Linked DNA regions of Homo sapiens: all the other regions are linked to region 1. Evidence: fine-mapped expression QTL. A gene starts in region 1. Each other region holds a variant in brackets. All regions are shown on one strand. Distances are between the middles of the regions.

The links.
Region 2: its variant is fine-mapped to the expression of TNKS2-DT in whole blood (TOPMed, PIP 0.97).
Region 3: its variant is fine-mapped to the expression of TNKS2-DT in whole blood (INTERVAL, PIP above 0.99).

The regions. Positions count from the first base shown.
Region 1 is chr10:91,797,228-91,799,991 of GRCh38, reverse strand. It overlaps TNKS2-DT (TNKS2 divergent transcript), which reads left to right and starts at 1,701. Exons shown (of 2, transcript NR_108071.1): 1 at 1,701-1,755. It overlaps TNKS2 (tankyrase 2), which reads right to left and starts at 1,566. Exons shown (of 27, transcript NM_025235.4): 1 at 1,103-1,566. The coding sequence starts at 1,301. RefSeq lists a silencer at 1,198-1,607 and an enhancer at 1,688-1,857.
Region 2 is chr10:91,687,660-91,690,423 of GRCh38, reverse strand. LOC107984253 (a long non-coding RNA gene) reads left to right here. Exons shown (of 4, transcript XR_001747550.1): 2 at 2,267-2,350; 3 at 2,646-2,764. Among named protein-coding and RNA genes, the nearest start is that of PPP1R3C, 56 kb to the right of the region's middle. The variant C/T (reference allele first, on the strand shown) is at 1,185.
Region 3 is chr10:91,842,123-91,844,886 of GRCh38, reverse strand. TNKS2 (tankyrase 2) reads right to left here. Exons shown (of 27, transcript NM_025235.4): 16 at 2,496-2,715. Among named protein-coding and RNA genes, the nearest start is that of TNKS2, 45 kb to the right of the region's middle. The variant G/A (reference allele first, on the strand shown) is at 1,174.

The DNA.
Region 1 (2,764 bases):
AAAAGTAATATCTGTGAAAGAGGAAATATTTCTCACTGCTCCTTTTCTCTTCATCAATCTAGCCCCAAAAGAACAGGAGTACTTTAAAAGGTATTCCCCGATTTTTCAAAAAATTGTTTTAAACAATCATGAAATACACAAAACAAAAAACCAGGATTGTCAGAGGTAAGAGGAGGTACTCCCATTTTCAATCACGCATGACTCACCTGAAGTTAGAAACAGTCATCATCTTTCCTACAAGTGAACAGCATGCATGCTTTATGGGAATAAGCTGAATATCCCATCTATGGCTCTTTTAAATTTTTCGACTAAATTTAATATGCTTAAATCATAAAGTGAACCTAATAAATATTAAAATAATGTAATTCAAACGATCTAAATTTCAGAATGAAGCAAGGTTAGTCCCAACTTAAATTCTAGATTCAAGCTAAAGTACTTGCACTATCTTTTCTCTTATACTACCACTTTCCGCCCAACTTGTATGTGTGTGTGTCTAAGGCTTCCCGCACCCAGCCTAAGTCAGGTTTCAGTTCTCCCAAACTTGCCTATTTCCCGTTCTAGTCACTCCAGAAACTTGGTAATGATTGGCTATTCTGATAAACCAATTAACGCTAATGTGTCAACGTCCTATTAAGCTACTCCTCCTAAATTACATCCTTGTATTTTACAAAGTCCTTCAAGACCTTAACCCAAATGGAACTTGCAAGAACGAAAAATTTTGGAGGTAACTGACCTTTTAAATCATAAGGTCTATCAACTACGTCCCCTACTCTTTCTTGTGTGTAGAGGCCTTCTAGGGTAACAAGACCGGAAGTTGGTACAGGTATTGTTGATACTGTAAAACAAAACAAAGCCAAAACCCCAAACCACCCCCAACACCTGGCAAAAAAACCAAACCAAGACAAAACAAAAAACTTCCAGCGAGTGTGGCACGCTCACCCTACCCCTAATCTCCTTAGTCCCCACTGGAAGAGAGCGAGATCACCAGGACCAGAGTCCTGGAGAAAGGTCGGGAGGCGGAGGAGCACTGGTTTCAGACCTGTGGGCCCCGGCTGCGCAGGTGGGGTCTGGAGCGAGGCGAGGGGACGCTGGCCCCGGTTACCTGCGGCGAAGTGCAGCGGGGTGGATTTCCTGCCCGCCGTGTCGCGGCTGTTCACCTTCTCAGGCGTCACCAGCCTCTTGACTCGTTCCACGTCCCCGTTGCGGCACGCCTCGAACAGCTCTCGGGCGGCCGGCTCCACGGCCTCGGCCGCGGCGCTCGCGCAGGCCGCTCCCCCGCCGGCGCAGCGGCGACCCGACATGATCCTGGCCGCCGCCACAGCCAGCAACAGCGCCAGCAACCGGAGCAGGAGCCCCGGCCCCGCGAGCAGGAGGGCGAGGCCCCCCGGAGAAGACGCGCTCAGGGCCCGGGCCGCTTGGCTCCCTGCTGTCACCGGATCCGGCGCAGTCCCATGGCCGCGCCCACGCGCGCCCCTCGCTGGGCTCCCTGCCCCCCGGCTGCCCCGCGGCGGCGGAGGCAGCGCGAATCCGCCGTCCGGGTCCTGAAACGACGCGGCGGCGGAAGCTGGCAAGGCCCCTCCTGCCAGCTCCGTCCAGCCCCGGGAGCGCACGTGACGTCGTCCCGCGCGTGCGCAGTGGCCGGGCACCGGCTGGGCAGGTTTCGGCTAGCGAGGCGGCGCGAAGGGTTTGTGGGAAATGTGAGGCGAGAGGCTTCGGCGGCGGGAGAAGGGGCTTCGTCCCACCGCCATCTTTGCGGTGGGTTCTGCTGAAGCCGAACGATCCTGCATATTGTGTTTTTTGTTGTTGTTGTTTTAAGCCCTGGGCTTTCCAGGCTGAACTTTCTCACTACCATTACACTGAAAAAGAGCCCTTGAAAGTTTTGCTCGGATCTTGCACATTCTTTTGGAAGTCTTACTGTGGAAATTGTCCGTGTTTTCAGCTTCCACATCCCTTTCTCCTGGGAGATTTCTTTTCCGTTTTTTTTACTTTGTCTCTTTTCTTTCCTCCGCAACTGCTTTGTTGTTGTTGTTGTTGTTTCTTGTAAACCACTTCTCAAAAGTGAACTAGTTGCCGTTTAATAGAAGTTTGGATGAACTGCCCCCAAAATAAAGGAAATCCGAACAGTCATGGAAGTTGACTCCAATTGGAGGGATGGCTCTGATCAATTACTCTTTCCACAGTAAGTTATTAGCTCAGGATTGATTAGAGGAACTTTTTGTAAATCAATATTGTACCTGACATGCCTAAAGTTTGGATACACTGAGCATACGCATCTCCAAGAAAGTTTTCTGAGTTATAATCTTTTTCTTTGACCAACAAACAAAAGAAAAGCATATAATTGATTTTCATGCTTAAGATACTGGTGTAGTTTTACACGATAATTCCCCACTACACCCCCTTGTCTTAAACTGAAAGAAAGGTATGCCTATACATACATTTTACTTACAGAAGATGATACATGTTGACCTTTGCCATTCTGAAAAGCATCCCCCCCCCAACCTCCTACCTTAACCTGTTTTTCAGGAAATCCAGTTTTTGTTGGGGAATGTTGACTCACTACAGTGCTAAAAGAGGATGTACACTTTTTTGAGCATTTTTATACATATGAAATTGAAGTTATGGTGCTTATCAATAACATGAACATGCATGAACGAACCTAGGACTAGAACACTACCAATATGATTGCGTTTATCATTTTTCTTCCCATAAATCTGCTATGGTGATCTATGATCAGTGATAAGTTGAAATCACTGTTGTAATTGTT
Region 2 (2,764 bases), 110 kb after region 1:
GTGTGTGTGTTTTGCTGTGCACCATTATTATAGCAATAGTTGATTAATACAGTAAACATGTGTGGAGCAGGCAACAGATATCAACTGGGGCAACCACAGTCTGGAATTCACTTATTTATCATATGTGTGCTAAATTGCCCCTTTTGGCAAGCCTTGTGCTGGGCTTGGAGCATCAAATGAAAATAAATAGCATGGTCATGGCTGGAGGGGCAAAGACAATCTAGTAACATAATAGACATGTAACAGACAATGCCAACGCACAAGGGTGATAGCAAGGCTGTGTACGGTATGTTCTGGCCACACAGCATGCCTGGAGGGACTTGGAGAAAGTGACACAGAGGATGACATTTGGATCAGATCTTCAAGGATGACTAGGACTTGATCAGGAGGGAAGGAGAAAAGAGCACTGCAGGCCTGGGGAACAGTGCAGAGGCAGGGCCACTGGAGAGTCCCTAAAAGGGAAAGCAGCCCAGTGTGGTTAGAGAGAATGGAGGGGAGTGGCAGGAAATGAGGCTAGAAAGTTGGACTGGGCTGTGTTGGAAGGGCCTGAGACTAAGGAGTGAGGACTTTATTTAGTAGCTTTAGTTCATGGACTTTTAAAAGGAACTCTCTGAGATTTTTAAGCAGTGGATGATGCAATCAAAGCCATGCTTTAGAACAGTGCTTTGTTTTTAACTTTTATTTGAGAGTTAGGGGGTACATGTGCAGGTTTGTTACAAAGGTGTATATATATATACCTTTGTAACAAGGTGTATACATATATATGTATACATATATATGTACACATATATATATGTGTGTATATATATATATATATATAAAATTTTTTATTTTTTTTGAGACAGAGTGTTGCTCTGTTGCCCAGGCTAGAGTGCAGTGGCACGATCTCAGCTCACTACAACCTCCACCTCCCAGGTTCAAGCGATTCTCCTGCCTCAGCCTCCCAAGTACCTGGGATTACAGGTGCATGCCACTACGCCCAGCTAATTTTTGTGTCTTGGGGGTTTCACAATGTTGGCCAGGCTGGTCTCGAACTCCTGACCTCAGGTGATCCACCCGCCTTGGCCTCCCAAAGTGCTGGGATTACAGGCATGAGCCACCGTGCCTGGCCTACAAAGGTATATTGCATGATGCTGAGGTTTGGGATATGACTGAACCCATCACGCAGGTAGTGGACATAGTAC[C/T]ACTATGGTTTTTTTTCAGGTAGTTTTTCAGCCCTTGCTCCCCTCCCTCTCTCCCCTCTCTTCACTAGTAGTCTCCAGTGTCCACTGTTACCACTTTATTAGTACCCAATGTTTAGCTGTCACCTATAAGTGAAACATGCAGTATTTGCTTTTCCATTTCTGCCTCAGTTCACTTAGGTTAGTGGCCTCTAGCTGCATCCATGTTGCTGCAAAGGACGTGATTTCATTGTTTTTGTATGGCTGTAGTACATGGTGTACATGTATCACGTTTTTGTTATCCAGTCACTCTTGATGGATACCTGGGTTGATTCCAAATTTTTGCTATTGTAAATAGTGCTGTGATGAACATATGAATGCATGTGTCCTTTTGGTAGAACAATATATTTTCCTTTCGGTATACATCCAGGAACGGTGTTGCTGGGTCAAATGGTAGTTCAACTCTTAGTTCTTTGAGAAATCTCTAAATTGCTCTCCACAGTGGCTGGACTAATTTACATTCCTACCAAGAGTGTATCAATGTCCCCCTTTCTCTCCACAGCCTCATGGATTTTGTTAAACAGTCAAAAAATAACAGGACAGTGTTTCTTAGGGTGTGTTCCCAGGACCAGTAAATTGTTAGAAATGCAAATTCTTGGTCCAAACCTACTAAACCAGAGACTCCAGAGTGGGCCCAGAAATCTATGTTTTAAAAAGCACTCCAGGGCTGGGTGCAGTGGCTCACGCCTGTAATCCCCACACTTTCGGAGGCCGAGGTGGGTGGATCACCTAAGGTCAGGAGTTCAAGACCAACTGGCCAACATGGTGAAACCCTGTCTCTACTAAAAATACAAAAATTAGCTGGATGAGGTGGTGGATGCCTGTAATCCCAGCTACTAGGGTGGTTGAGGTAGGAGAATTGCTTGAACCCAGGAGGCGGAGGTTTTGGTGAGCCGAGATGGCACCACTGTACTCCAGCCTGGGCAACAACAGCAAAACTCCATCTCAAAAAAAAGTACTCCAAGTCTATGTTTTAAAAAGCACTCCAGGTGATTCGGATACATGCTAAAGTTTGAGATTCACTGCTTAGGACAATTCTCTTTCAGCTGTCAAGAGTCTGGAGTGAGGGCCTCATGCTGGGAAGAGTTTCTGAAGAGCCACAGTAGAATCAGGAGGCACCTCCCTTGAGGGTAAGGAAATATGAGAGATTCTAACTACTCATCTGGCCCCAGAGCAACAAGATCAAGGTGGTCAGGGTGTAGGCAGTATAGGCATTCATCCATTCACTTCTTTATTCATTTGCTCAAGAATCCTTTCTTGGCAATGACTATGAGCAGGTGTGGAACTGGGTCTGGGAGATAGAATTCTAGAAAAGAGGATGTTGTTGCCCTGTGAGGGACTCACATCTAGTGGCATCAGCTCTGTTCTGGGTGGAGCAAGATTCCAAATGCTTACTCATCTCTTTCTCTTTTCCTTTTTCTTTAGAGGTTAATGAGCATTAAATTTTTGATGAACATCAGGGTCTTCAATGAAGAGGATGATGATAATTGCTATCATTGATTGAGCACTTACCATGAGCTAGACCCTGATCTAAGATCTTTGTG
Region 3 (2,764 bases), 45 kb before region 1:
TGTTTTTTCTTTTTTAGTCCTATGTCATAATACTTCCACTTGTTAACATAAAAAAGTCATTACATGTATACATATATATATGTATTTATAAGGCATAGACATTACTGAAAACATAAAAAAAGAGATTTTGTATAAATCTGAAATAGCTCATTGGACTCTATTAACAATTTACCTTCTGGAAAACATTTCCCCCTTGCCTCAAGTTGGAAGCTTTTTGTGTTATCAATTAGCTTTGTAGATTCCCAAAATTATATTGACTGATTTGCTTGTATCTTTCCTATGAAAACCTTCCTACCAAAGTCTCTGCCTTCATGGGTGTTACATACCACTTCTTGAACTCAGGTACATGGGTCTCAGAGGCTGCAAGTCAAAGGTCTGCAATCACATACAAGTCAAACCAGAGTGGGCCTCAGAGTCCTCTTCCCCAGAAGGCCACAAGAGCATGCTTTTTTGCTAGAGAGAACTCAGAGGTACACATCTCTGCAAGTCTAGTAGAGGAACTTAGGTGCTGTTAAAGCCATGAAATAAAACTTATTTCTATTATAGTTTTTATCCTTTTGCTAAAGGATTTAAAGCAAAAGAATTTAAAAAGATCAAGTAAAGAAGAATACAATTATAAAACTACCATAAAATATTACATTAATCTAAAAGTCTTTCTAGGTCTCAAGGTATGGTATTTAACGCTGCAGAAGTGGACAGAAATATTTTATGCATACAAATTATTTGTGACTTACAAAGACAACTTGGACACAGTAATGTTAAGTGTTCTAGATAGGCTACAAGAAAGATATAAAAGCTAACATAAATATGCACAGCACAACTTCCAATCAAAGGTCAAGTCATATTTTGTCTTGCATGGACTAGAAACTCCTGATAGCCAGTGGAAGTAAAGCTTTTTCTCACCATGTTAGCATTTGTGGCTTATCACTTCCAAAATACTTGAAAGACACATAGAGTAATTGGTTTCTTTGGACAGTGAGGTCTCAACTTACATGGAGTGAGAATTTAAAGGTAAAAATCATGTATAACACCAAGTTATAATACAAGACTGAAATGAACATCATACATTTCCATCTCCCACATTACACGAAATGGCAGAAATTTTGCATTATTTTTTCTTGCTTTTTATACCATGTTTAAATCATGTATATTTAGACAAACTTGTATGAGTCC[G/A]CTGTGTCTATGATGGAACTCCACTGAGGTATTAGCTATAGCTCAGTGATTTTAATGATTTCCTAACATCTGTAATGCAGCTGAAAAAGCTGTACTGAAACCACAATATATTGTATATTTGCACTGAAAACAAAGGTACACTGTGCCAGTTTTATGAGTGAAACCTTAAAACAAATGTCACGAAATGAATTGTACCCTGCAAAATTCTTATGTTGAAGCCCTAACCCCAGTACCTTAGAATATGACTCTATTTGGAGACAGAGCCTTTAAAGAGCTAAAAAAGTTAAAATGAGCCCATTAGGGTGGGCTCTAATCTAATTTGACTGGTTTCCTTAAAAGTAGAGACTAGGACATATAGAAAGAGACACCATGTTCCAATGGAGGACACACTGAGAAGGTAGACAGCTGCAAGCCAAGAGGGGGTTTCAGAAGAAACCAACTCTGCCAACACCTTGAACTTGGACTCCTAGCCTCCAGAACTGTGAGAAAACAAATTTCTGTTGTTTAAGCCACCTGGTCTTTGGTATTTTGTTATGAGAACTCTCACAAACCAAAACAACAGATAACTTTGGTGAGAGGCTTATGTAACTTCTGAGAGTTTTGAGATTTTTTTTTTTTCCTGCTTGTGCTTAGCAGCTACCATCAGGAAAAATAGAAAGCTTTAGCTTCCTATAAGGAAGGCTGGCTCAAGTAGGCATATTTTTCAAAACTTGTTTACCAAAGGTGATACCAATAAAATGATTACCTGGAATAATGATTCCCAAAGCACATGGGGACTGGCAGAGCCTACTTCAATTGTTCTTACTGAATGTAACATACTAGTAATAAAGTGAACTCGAACTCAGCTAATAGCTTCAAGTACGGTCGTCCTGTACAAATACACTGAAGAGTATAATGGTGGCATTAGAAGATACTTGATTTGAATTTTTATTTATTTTTTTTATTTTTTGAGACAGGGTCTCACTTTGTTTCTGGAGTACAGTGGCACAATCAAGGCTTATTGCATCCGTGACCTCCTGGGCTCAATCTTCCCACCTCAGCCTCCTGAATAGCTGGGACTACAGGTGCACACCACCACTCCTGGCTAATTTTTGTAATTTTTTATAGAGGTGTGGTTTTGCCATGTTGCCCAGGCTGCTCTCAAATTCCTGGGCTCAAGCAATCCTCCTGCCTTAGCCTCATAAAGTGTTGGGATTACAAGTGTGAGCCACCATGCTTGGCCTGATTTGAATTTTTAAAGTTTAGTTACAGAAAATATTTTACCTGGGTAAAATGAATCTCAGATATTACCAGCCTAAATCTGTGAAACTTCATTCACTTACCTGCTAAATGTAAAGGTGTTGAATGTCTGCCTTGGGTATCGCGGCAATTTACATTATCAGGAGAAGACAACTTCTTCACTCTGGCTAAACAACCCTTCTTGGCAGCATCTAGCAAAGCTGCATCTCCCCTAAGCAGATCTTGAATATCTGTATCTCCATCTTTAACAAGATCCAAAGGAGTATTTCCATCCCTGTTTTTTTTTGTAGGGTCTGCACCATGCTAGGCATGTGAAAAACAGAAAAAAAGGGGGAAATGGCTTAAATGTGCC